2 separate regions of the Homo sapiens genome follow, and region 1 is linked to region 2. Evidence: fine-mapped expression QTL. A gene starts in region 2. The other region holds a variant in brackets. All regions are shown on one strand. Distances are between the middles of the regions.

Region 1 (5,376 bases), 27 kb after region 2:
AGTTGAAAGAAGCTAGATGATGGTCTGAGGGGAATTTCAGTGATACCTTAGAGGAGGGCCAGGCACAGTGGCTCACGCCTGTAATCCCAGCACATTGGGAGGCTGAGGCGGGCAGATCACTTGAGCTCAGGAATTTGAGACCAGCCTGGGCAACGTGGCAAAACCTCATCTCTACAAAAAATGCAAAAATTAGCTGGGTGTGGTGGCATATACCTGTAGTCCCAGCTATGCAGGAGGCTGAGGTGGGAGGATTGCTTAAGCCCAGGAGGTCACAGCTGCAGTGAGCCAAGCCGAGATTGTGCCACTGCACTCCAGCCTGGGCAACAGATTGAGACCCTGTGTCAAAAAAGAAAAAGGAAAGAGAGAAAGAGAGAGAGAAAGAAAAGAACAAAGAGAAAGAAAAAGAAGAGAAAGAAAAAAGAAAAGAAAAAGAGAAAGAAGACTTAGAGGGAGATAATCTCTTAGTGATTTGCTTTCCTGTCTACTCCACTACATAGTTTGTCTTGTAAGCCTAAGAAAGATGTTTTGCCTTTGAAGATAATAGTAACTCCTTCAGCTACATTTAGAGATCCTGTGTCAACATATCTAGCATACCCTTTCTTTTTTGTAATTATACACTTAAGTGGATGTTCAGTTTGAGACATACTGTGAAAAGGTTGGTTTAAAAGCCTTTTCTGTGCCAGAGGTAATTTTCTTTATGCTTTTCAAGAGACTATGAAGAGGCTAATGAGAACTGATGACATCGCTTAACTGAGACAGGCCCTGCATTCTTGTCAATAGATGTTTGAAGTTAAAGTGTGTGGGCTGTAATTTAAGAGAAATGGGATAGATCATGGTTTCTTTCTTGGAAGCCCAGGGTTGGAGGAGTTGTCATGGTAATACTAACTCCCACCTTTACCTACAAGCATTTGTTGTGGAGTACCTACTCTGTTACAGGACCCTTGGGCTTGGCCAACTATATTGCCTCTCTAGCCTTGGAGAAAAAGAGTATAGTTGAGTCTTTTAGTGTCTGTTCCATGGTGAGTAGTTTGAAGAGTATCCCACAGTTCTGGGTCCTTGCCCTGCAATGCCCCTGGCCATTCTAGAGATCACTTTGTCCTTGACACTGTCAGTGAGCTCAGAGACCTGTTAGAAGTATGGTCACCAACTTCCACCTACAATGCAACTCCAGGAAGGATTACCACAATGCTCATCCCAATTATTTTGCAAATCCCAATGGGAGGTTGCAGGTATAATGACAGAGGGCAGGAAACCTCATGTTTCTTGCAGAGTGTTAGGAAAAGATTTGAAGGTGCAGGTACTGAAAGGCTGTTGAGGACAAATGCTTATTAGAATGAAGTTGATTAGAGATCAAAGTCCTGCTTGATACCTCAACGTATCCTTGATACCCTTGCTTCTCTTAAGCCAGGCCCTCTGAATCTTTTCAGGTACTTGGATTGAGAAATTACTTCTTTCCTTCTTAGAAAAGGCTGAAGATCCCAGGCATGGTGGCATGCGCCTGTAATCCCAGCTACTCGGGAGGCTGAGGCAGAAGAATCTCTTGAACCTGGGAGGTGGAGGTTGCAGTGAGCCGAGATCGCATCACTGCACTCCAGCCTGGGCAACAGAGCAAGACTCCATTTCAAAAAAAAAAAAAAAAAAAAAAGGCTAATGATCACTACTAAGACAATTATGTATTTGAGCCTTGTGACCTATGTGTGAATGGTGAGCATCTCTGAATACTACCCAGCATTCCTGCAACAGACCAGTGTAGATATTGGGATTCCACAGTTTGTATAAGATTCTATGTCAACAGACCCCGTATCAGTGAGTCAGTGTTTGCAGCCAACACGGAGTATGTTGCCCCAAGAGCCTGTGGATGGATCACTCAGGCTTCCCAACAAGGACAACCGCCTCACCTCCCCCTGCCCATCACCAGCTTTGATAGGCACTCCAACCCCCAGCCACCTTCTGCCTAGACAAGCTCCTCTTCCTACTTGGGCTCTAACTCCTCACTGCAGGCCACTCCTGCACAGGGATGCCCTACTCATCCTGCTCATCCATAAAGGTAACTCCACATTTATGTGACC[G/A]GCTGTCCTAGTAACAGTTATGCTGTTTCCACCTCATTTTCACTGTTTAACTTAATCCTCGGGTAAGTGTAGAGCCAGGTGAATGATAACTTATTATTATTTATTATTTATTTTTTTATTTTTTTTGAGACAGTCTTGCTCTGTCGCCCAGGCTGGAGTGCAGTGGCACGATCTCGGCTCACTGCAACCTCCACCTCCCGGCTTCAAGCAATTCTTCTGCCTCAGCCTCCCAAGTAGCTGGGATTACAAGCTCACGCCACCACGCCCGGTTAATTTTTGTATTTTTAGTAGAGATGGGGTTTCACCATATTGGCCAGGCTGGTCTCCAACTCCTGACCTCATGATCCACCCACCTCAGCCTCCCAAAGTTCTGGGATTACAGGCGTGAGCCACCACGCCTGGCCAATGATAACTATTATTACAAAACAAACTCTTAAGAGTTTTGCACACTTTCTATATGTACGTTATACTTAATCAAATGTATTCCCCAGCAATATTTAATATTGCTGTTAGGCCGGGTGTGGTGGCTAACGCCTGTAATCCCAGCACTTTGGGAGGCCAAGGCGGGTGGATCACGAGGTCAGGAGACCGAGACCATCCTGGCTGACATGGTGAAACCCTGTCTCTACTAAAAAAAAATACAAAAATAAGCTGGGCGTGGTGGTGCGTGCCTGTAATCCCAGCTACTCGGGAAGCTGAGGCAGGAGAATCGCTTGAACCAGGGAGTGGGAGGTTGCAGTGAGCTGAGATCGCACCACTGCACTTCCAGCCTGGCGACAGAGTGAGACTCCATCTCAAAAAAAAATAAAAAAATTACTATTAATACAATACTACCAGAAAGAAGTCTAAAAACATTCATGTTACCGTGAAGTTACCCCTGTATCTTAGTGGAGGCCAAGGACCCCAGGGCAGTCCAGTCACCAGCTGCTCAGGCAAGGAATCTTGTTCAACTTCCGGCACTTCTTGATTCTCTAATAGGCTATCCTTGTAGCACTTTGATTCTCTAATAGGCTGTCCTTGGCCCTTTGGTAAGGGCCAAAAGATCTGATAAAAACATAAGGACTGTTTATTTGGTTTTTAAAATTGTATCAAGCTATTTCAAGAAATATTTTTAAATTGCTAAAGCTGCTCACAAAGCAGTAATGACCCTAGCATAGGTGGGATCTTGCCTTTTGCATTGATTTGCACTTGGCGCACTGTTCCTGTTGGAGATGGAGGGCAAAGGAGAAGATAGCACCAGGAGGCTCCTTTGCCCATCAGTATAAGATTCCAGCAGTATTAAGGAATTATTGTGATTTTTAGATTTGATAATGCCATTGTGGTTATTTTTTCAAATTCTCTTTTAGAGTGTATACTGAAATATTTACAGATAAAATGACATATATGAGATGTGCTTCAAATAATCCAGTGGAAGGGTGTAGATGAAACAAGATTAGCCATAAATTGATAACCTGGGTGGTGGGTTTCACCTCTTCTTTTTCATATGCTTGAAACTTTCCATAATGAAAAGTTAAAAAAAAATAAAAGATTCGATCACAAAGTTATATCCTATCTTGGCTACTGCATAGCGGTAGTGCTAAAGCCAGTAGGAACACTTCTAAGACTGACAATGCATCCATGATCCTTACTCCTCCATAGGGCTTTACCATTCACAGACCACATTCACTGCTCCACTCCACCTGGATACGCTGCCCCACCCTCTCCCCTCAGCCTGAGCAGAAGAGGGAATGATGCATTATCAAAGCAGGGCATATTTGGGCCACAAAAGAAGCCTTTGTTGAGGACGACTTGTCTGGTTGCTTGGCAGGCGGAGCTTGCAAGGAAGCCCGAGGTAGCTCTGCTATGTCAGGCTGGTGTTCTGTAAGCCTGGGAGCAGTGGGGAATGTTTGGGGCCACTGAAGCTGCATTTCTGACACATGCTAATGAGCTCGCCCAGGGATGTAAACAGAGTCAGCACTTCAAACTAAATTCTGGTGACATTTAACAACCCTTGCTTAACCACCTCCCTAGACTGCTTCTGACTGGACACAAGAATGCCAATAGAAAAGGGGGCATTTCCCACCTCTGACAGCTTTCCAATGCCAGTTTATAAAAAGCTGCCAAATGTGCCCAGCCTCACTCAGTGTGGGCATCCCCAAAGGAGAAGAGCAAATGTGTTTTCTGAATTCCCAATTTCAGGCCTCTCCACTCATCTCTACAATCTTCCCCAGTCTGGTTGGGAAGTAAGCTGTCCTCAGGGGGACCTTAGAGAGCTCCTTCAGGGAGTCGGAAGACTCATTAAGCTGACAGTTGACAGCTGATTTTGTCATGCTAACTTTAGACTGTTCCTAATCAGGAGCCACTAGTCCCTGAGGTGGTTGTGTTCATTGCCTACTTGTAAAAGTAGGTCTTTCTCTAGTTTTGAGTGCACGTGGTTGCGTCACTCTGTAGGTAACGTGGACAGAGCTGGGGAGGCCAACAACATGGATGTTCCTATTGAAGAAAAGTTAACCACTCCGTTCCCTAAGATCAGCCGCTTGCCTTGAAGACACATGCCAGTGGTTCACAGTGGAGCTCACCACCCCTCCTCATGGACCCCATCCAAAGCAGCTCTGTCTTGAATGGTGTTGCTAGCCAGCCAACCTTTCACGGCTGAGGTCTGGGTACAAGCTTTCATTTCTTTCTTCCTCACTTTCCACATCCAGTTGGTCAGCAAGTCTTGCTTTTATCTTTGTCTCTCTGCCTCTATTCATTTATTTAATTATTCATTTCCACAAATATTTACTTAGCACTTACTATGTGCCAGACACAATGTTAACATCTGGGGATATAATGGAATAAGACCGTCTGCCATGATCCCTCCTTCCATTCCTATGTGTCCTCCTGTTTGGGCCCTAATCAGAACCCCAGTGCCTTCATCAGGCCCTCATCAGTTATCATCTGCAATAGTTTCCTAATTGATCTTCCTACCTCAGGGTGACTCTCGATCAGTTAGTCAGTCATCATTCTCTCGTTACAAATGACAGAAACCCATCCTGACTTAGCTCAGGCAACAAGAGTGAGGGGTATAGTTTATTGAGTTGTGTAAACAAATTACAGGAATGGCCAGAGCACAGGTGAGTCTTAGGATCAAGTGGAACCAGAAGCTGATGGGCAACAGGAATGCCTGCTATTTCTGGTCCCTGCTTCCCTTGAAGTGTTAGTGTCATTCCCATCACAGGCCAGCTCTTTCCCACAGGGATGCCCATTGTCTTCGAGTTTTACCACTTTAGAAAGATTCCTTCTTTCTAGTCGAGTTAAAAGATCCCAAGAAATGTTCTGACTGGAC
Region 2 (5,376 bases):
TACTTCAATATGTTTAAAAATACACAAACCAACCCAAATCTCACACATGTCAGCCCTACTAATGTCAATTCAATTCTAATATAGTTATAAGAAAATATGGTTATGTCAAAGGAAACATAGCAGGTTCACAAAGTACTGGGCAGGCAGGTAACCCAAATAAGTGAAACAGGCTTCAAGGGCAAGGAGGACTGTGCCTAACAGCTGCTACTCAGCCCGACCCAACCTTTGCCTCTAGGAAATACTGGTAAAGAACAACAATAATAAACTTCTGCTAATGGAACAGTCTGCAGGCTGGATTTGGCACACAGGCTACCATGTATATGTACCATGTACCTTTGCCGAAATGCTTAGTGGCTACGAACTAGTCTGAGTCAGAAAAGCTAGACTGAAAAAATACCTCTCTTCTGATTCTAACAAACTTCATGAACCTATCCAGTCTCCGTTTCCTCATCTATATGTCACTGATTTTTATTTTCTTTTTTTTTTTTTTTAAGAGAAAGAGTCTCAATGTTGCCCAGGCCAACTCCTGGGTTCAAGCAATCCTCCTACCTTATCCTCTTGAGTAGCTAGGACTACAGGCGCGCCCCACCGCACCCAGCTTGAGTTTTTTAAGTGAAGTTAGGTAATGCACGTAATTTTTTAAAATGCTATCATTAGATGCTGAGGGGTACAGATTAAAAAGGAAACAGAAAAAGAACAACAACAATTTAAGCATCTGTTCCATCTGGCTATGGGCTTTACTTTTCCTCAAACTGACAACACCTTGTCCCACCTTCTTTCCCACCCACAGGCTATTTTCACCTGTAATGTCTCCTCTTCCTCAGGTTTCTTCAAGGTGTACTTAATATTTCATTTATACCTTTCCTTTCTACTTCAGGCCTCCTTTGAAAGTACTTTCAGGAATGGCACTGAAACTAGGGCCTATTTTACTGCTGAACTCTAGGACAAACTCATGAAATCTTGTTCCCTTTGAATGTAGTAGTTTTTCCCCCCTAAATCTTTGAACGCTGTGCACTTCGTGAATTCCTTTTGCCTACCTAAAGGACCTATCAGCATGTTCACTGAACAGTGCTTTCATCTATCCCTCTTCCCGGGACCCTCGCTTAACATCTGTTCAAGGTGCCAATCAAATTAACGAAAATGTCAAAACGTATTAACCAAAAATTCATTGCTAAGCAAATAGATTTGAAACAACTTCAGAATATCAATTCCAAGGCTCCCCTTCTTTAAAAGGAAATGTGAGTTAAGAACAATCTTAGTTTTTTCTTACATTCATTCTAGTACAGACATCCAAAAAACAAAACAGCTTTCCTCAGAAAGGTGTGTTTGACTTTCTCAAAAGGAAGTTATCATATTGATTTCAGTTCATGTAGAAAAATAACATTCTCCATTTCTTTTTTTTTCTTTTTTGGAGACAGGATCTCACTCTGCTGTCCAGGCTGGAGTGCAGTGGCCCAAACACGGCTCACTGCAGCCTCAACCACTTGGGGTCAAGCGATCCTCCTGCCTCAGCCTCATTTGTAGGGACAAAGTCCCGCCACGTTGCCCAGGCTGGTCTAGAACTCCTGGGCCCAAGCGATCCTTCCACCTCAGCCTCCCAAAGTGCTGAGATTACAGGCGTGAGCCACCGCGCCCAGCCCTCCATTTATTTTCTTGATAACAATCTGGAATCTTGATTCCATGAAACCTCTGAGAATCAAAAGAAATGTTATGGTGCCTCTCTCCAGGTAAATGCACAGAACCTCAAATTTTTGTAAGCAATTCTAGGGGATTCAGAATACTCCAGGATCTTCCGTGGAATATCTATCCACCCCAGGTTAAGAATTCCACTAATGAATATGAGGTTTCTTTCTATTATTAAGTGTCATGTATCTTTTAAAAAAGATAGTCTTTCTTAATGAGACCTTCAGCTTTGAGATTTAACTAGGGAAGCAGCTTCCCTTTGCAACTAAAACTACTATCTCACAGCCATCCTGACAGCTGACAGAAAATTGAGAATTTCTTACCTCTGAGAAATTAACAGCCAAGGGAATGATTCCGGCCACGTAACATCCCACCAACATAGCCAGAGACAGCAGGCTAATGGAGATGAAATCATCCATTCTGCCCTCCTTTATTCACCCACAACCACTAGACAACAAATTTCCAGTGGCTTTAAATGGTGCTTAGGTTCTTTAAACAGGTGTGGTGGTTCCAAGAGAGTGGGCTTTCCAGTTCTTTAGGCCTTCCCACCAGCAGATGTGTTCACGAGGCACCTTCCTCTTGAACGTACCCGGCAACAGACCCTTTTTGCTGATATTAGCACCAGAGAAAGCTTACAGCAATCTAAGGTCCCAGGCTCTGGGTTCTCAGATGCCAGTCATTAGATTCTCGTGGGTTAACAGAGATGGGAAAAGTCAATGGGGAAAATGTGCGAATGATCGATTTCTTCGATTGTCGGATTGAGGGTGGCACAATGTCTTAGGCGGCGGCGGGTAAGTGACTCAAGCGAACCTGTTCGTTCCCTAGGCGCCCCTGTCTCCAAGAGGCGGCCCCGAAGGTGATCCGCCCCCCAGAGCAGGAAACCAGCCCACCAGTCCCAGCAAACTCTCCTCCGAGCCTGGGATGAGGAAAGGAGTCCTGCAGGTCTCTAACGATGGGTCCTAGGGGTTCAGCAGCAAAGTTGACACAAAGCTGTCTCTGCCCTATACCCGGTGCTGCCCATGGTACTGCACTCGACCGGGCCTTGACCCGGAGTCGCCGATACTACAGCTGCCATGGCCGCCAAGTGGCATCTCTTCATTCCATCCACTTCCGGATTGTCTAACCACCCCCTCCTTTACAAAGGCACTTCCGGGTTACAACCGACCTCCGGCCCAGGATACTTACGTTGCCGCCATTTTTGAGTAGGGCTAATGAAAGATGTCTGATGTCACTGTCTATACCGGTGATCACTTGAGCCGTATGTTTAATAACGAAAGTACGGAAGACAGCGTCTTGAAAAAAAATAATTCTTCCTAAAGCTTGGAAACTTTCCCTTACCTTTTTGCCTTTATCGAAGATGGCTGAAACAGAGTCAGTAGCTGCTCTAGCTGCCGGAAGTGACTGTGCCTCTATGATCCAAAAGGCTCTTTTGCGTTGCACTTTCGACGACTTCCGGCGGCTCCTCTCGCGAGGATTGGCTGTTAGCGGCGTTGTAGTTAAGCTCGTGTAACGGCGGCGGTGTCGGCAGCTGCTGTAGCGAAGAGAGTTTGGCGCGATGGTGAGAAAGGCCTCCGCGGCTACCCGAGTCCGAGTCCCCGGCCTCCAGAGCGACCCCAGCCCCATACGTTTTCCCCTCCCCACGAGCCCCATGCAGCGCCGCGTGATGCTCCCCGCCACTCTAGTCGGTGGATTGACCCTTCTTCCCGCCGCAGGGACGCCAGGCCTGACTCTAGGCCTCGGAGCCCCGGTCCGCCCTGCGGTTGCGCGCCCGCCTGCTCGCTCGGGTCCGGCGTGCCTTGGGCCTGAGGATGAACTCTCTCCCGATTGTTACTCGGTAGAGGGAGACGTGGGGGAGGTGTTTTGTTTTTTGAGATAGAGAGTCTCACTCTATCGCCCAGGCTGGAGTGCAGTGGCGGGATCTCAGACCCCTGCAACCTCTGCCTCCTGGGTTGAAGCAATTCTCCTGTCTCAGCCTCCCTAGTAGCTGGGATTACAGGCGCCCGCCACCTCGCTCGGCTAATTTTTTTATTTTAGCAGAGACGGCGTTTCACCATGTTGGCCAGGCTGGTCTCGAACTCCTGACCTCAAGCAATCCACCCGCCTCGGCATCCCAAAGTGCTGGGATTACAGGCGTGAGCCACCGGGCCCTGCCGGATATGGTATTTTTCCCTCCAAATGCTCTAGCCTGCTGTAGGAACAATGGGCCAGGGTTGTCTAACTATTCTCGAAGCTGACAGATCCAGCTATACCCAGCATGTGGGCCAGGAGAGGACGTATTTGCTTTGCAGTGTTTTTTCAGCTTTCGTTTTCCTGTGCTCTGCCTTTTTTTTTTTTTTCCTGTTTTTGAGACCTCTAGGTATTGCGTGTGGCGCGTCCCTCAGCCCTCGATCCTGTACTTATCTGTATTTATATCCTCTTGGGGCTGGAGGCTGAAAAGTAGGCTCAGCTCAGAGACCAGCTCTATTAGAACCCAACCGGGATGATCAGTAAGCTCCAATTCGAAGAAAGTGACCAAAACTGGCTTGAGAGGTGGTATAATCTGTAAAGAATTTGAGCAGGAAAGCATTGCCATTTAAAAATGATAACCACTTGACCACAGTTTTTAAAATGTATCATGTTATGTTCTTAGTGATTTTTAATCCTTGTCTTTGGGCAGTAAGTACTGAAAATAGTAAACTTTGCCCGGTGTTCATTTTAAGACTAGATATAAAAAGCAACATGCTGTATAGCTTTTTCCATTCTTACCCTTTCAAATTAGTCCTTTAATTTGCATTAGAATTGGAATACAATTATTATAGTAGCAGTTGAGATAGCTAGTGTATAGGGCAACCTCTGTTGCAAGAATGCACGTGGTTTCTACAAAATTATTTTTTCTTAAATGACTCGTTGAAACTTTTTGAGTAGCTAGCTTACAAAGACTTCTGTATAACAAATAATCTAATATGATGCTTTCTGTGGCTTTTAAATCGATTTAACAAAGGCTTTGACTGCTCAGGTTATTACAGGTGAGAGTTAATCCTTCGTCTCTTGTCACCAAGTTCCGTTTTTATGTCAAACCCTCTGAAACTTTTAGTCAAAGTGGTTTAGTTCTTGATGGGGAGAGAAGGGTATGATAACCCTTGGTTTTGCATGTCATGTTAAATGTACTATTTTTCCATTGTTTATTCAGAAAGTCTGGGCTTCAGCTATTTCTGTTCCAATTTGATGGTTAAAAATTCTGATCATTTTGTCCAGGCGCGGTGGCTCACGCCTGTAATCCCAGCACTTTGGGAGGCCGAGGCAGGCAGATCACCTGAGGTCGGGAGTTCAAGACCAGTCTGACCAACATGGAGAAACCCCATCTCTACTAAAAAGACAAAATTAGCCGAGCATGGTGGTGCATGCCTGTAATCCCAGCTACTTGGGAGGCTGAAGCAGAAGATTCGCTTGAACCCGGAAAGCAGAGGTTGCGGTGAGCTGAGATCGCGCCTTTGCGCTCCAGCCTGGGCAACAGGAACAAAACTGTCTCCAAAAAAAAATTATGTTATTCCAAAACAGTTTAGGGTTCCTGTTAGGAAATTTTTGTTTTCTGGTTTTTGGCTGAAAAATACTAGTACAGCAGAAGAGAAGGAAAAAGGTGAATAGTTTGATTTGGGACTGGATTTACAGTGGAGTTGCATCATACTTGCATTTAATTAACCTTACACATGTAGC

What was found. PIP is the estimated chance that this variant, and not a neighbour inherited with it, causes the effect. A credible set is the group of variants that fine-mapping cannot tell apart.
Region 1: its variant is the best candidate, but not a certain one, in a credible set for the expression of ERH in whole blood (TOPMed, PIP 0.71).

What each region holds. Positions count from the first base shown.
Region 1 is chr14:69,368,761-69,374,136 of GRCh38, reverse strand. It overlaps a transcript of GALNT16 not described here. Among named protein-coding and RNA genes, the nearest start is that of ERH, 27 kb to the left of the region's middle. The variant G/A (reference allele first, on the strand shown) is at 2,070.
Region 2 is chr14:69,396,096-69,401,471 of GRCh38, reverse strand. ERH (ERH mRNA splicing and mitosis factor) reads left to right here and starts at 3,173. Exons shown (of 4, transcript NM_004450.3): 1 at 3,173-3,241. The coding sequence starts at 3,239. It overlaps SLC39A9 (solute carrier family 39 member 9), which reads right to left and starts at 2,780. Exons shown (of 7, transcript NM_018375.5): 1 at 2,007-2,780. The coding sequence starts at 2,102. RefSeq lists enhancers at 2,488-2,827, 1,756-2,955, 3,157-3,664, 3,665-4,173 and a silencer at 2,924-3,164.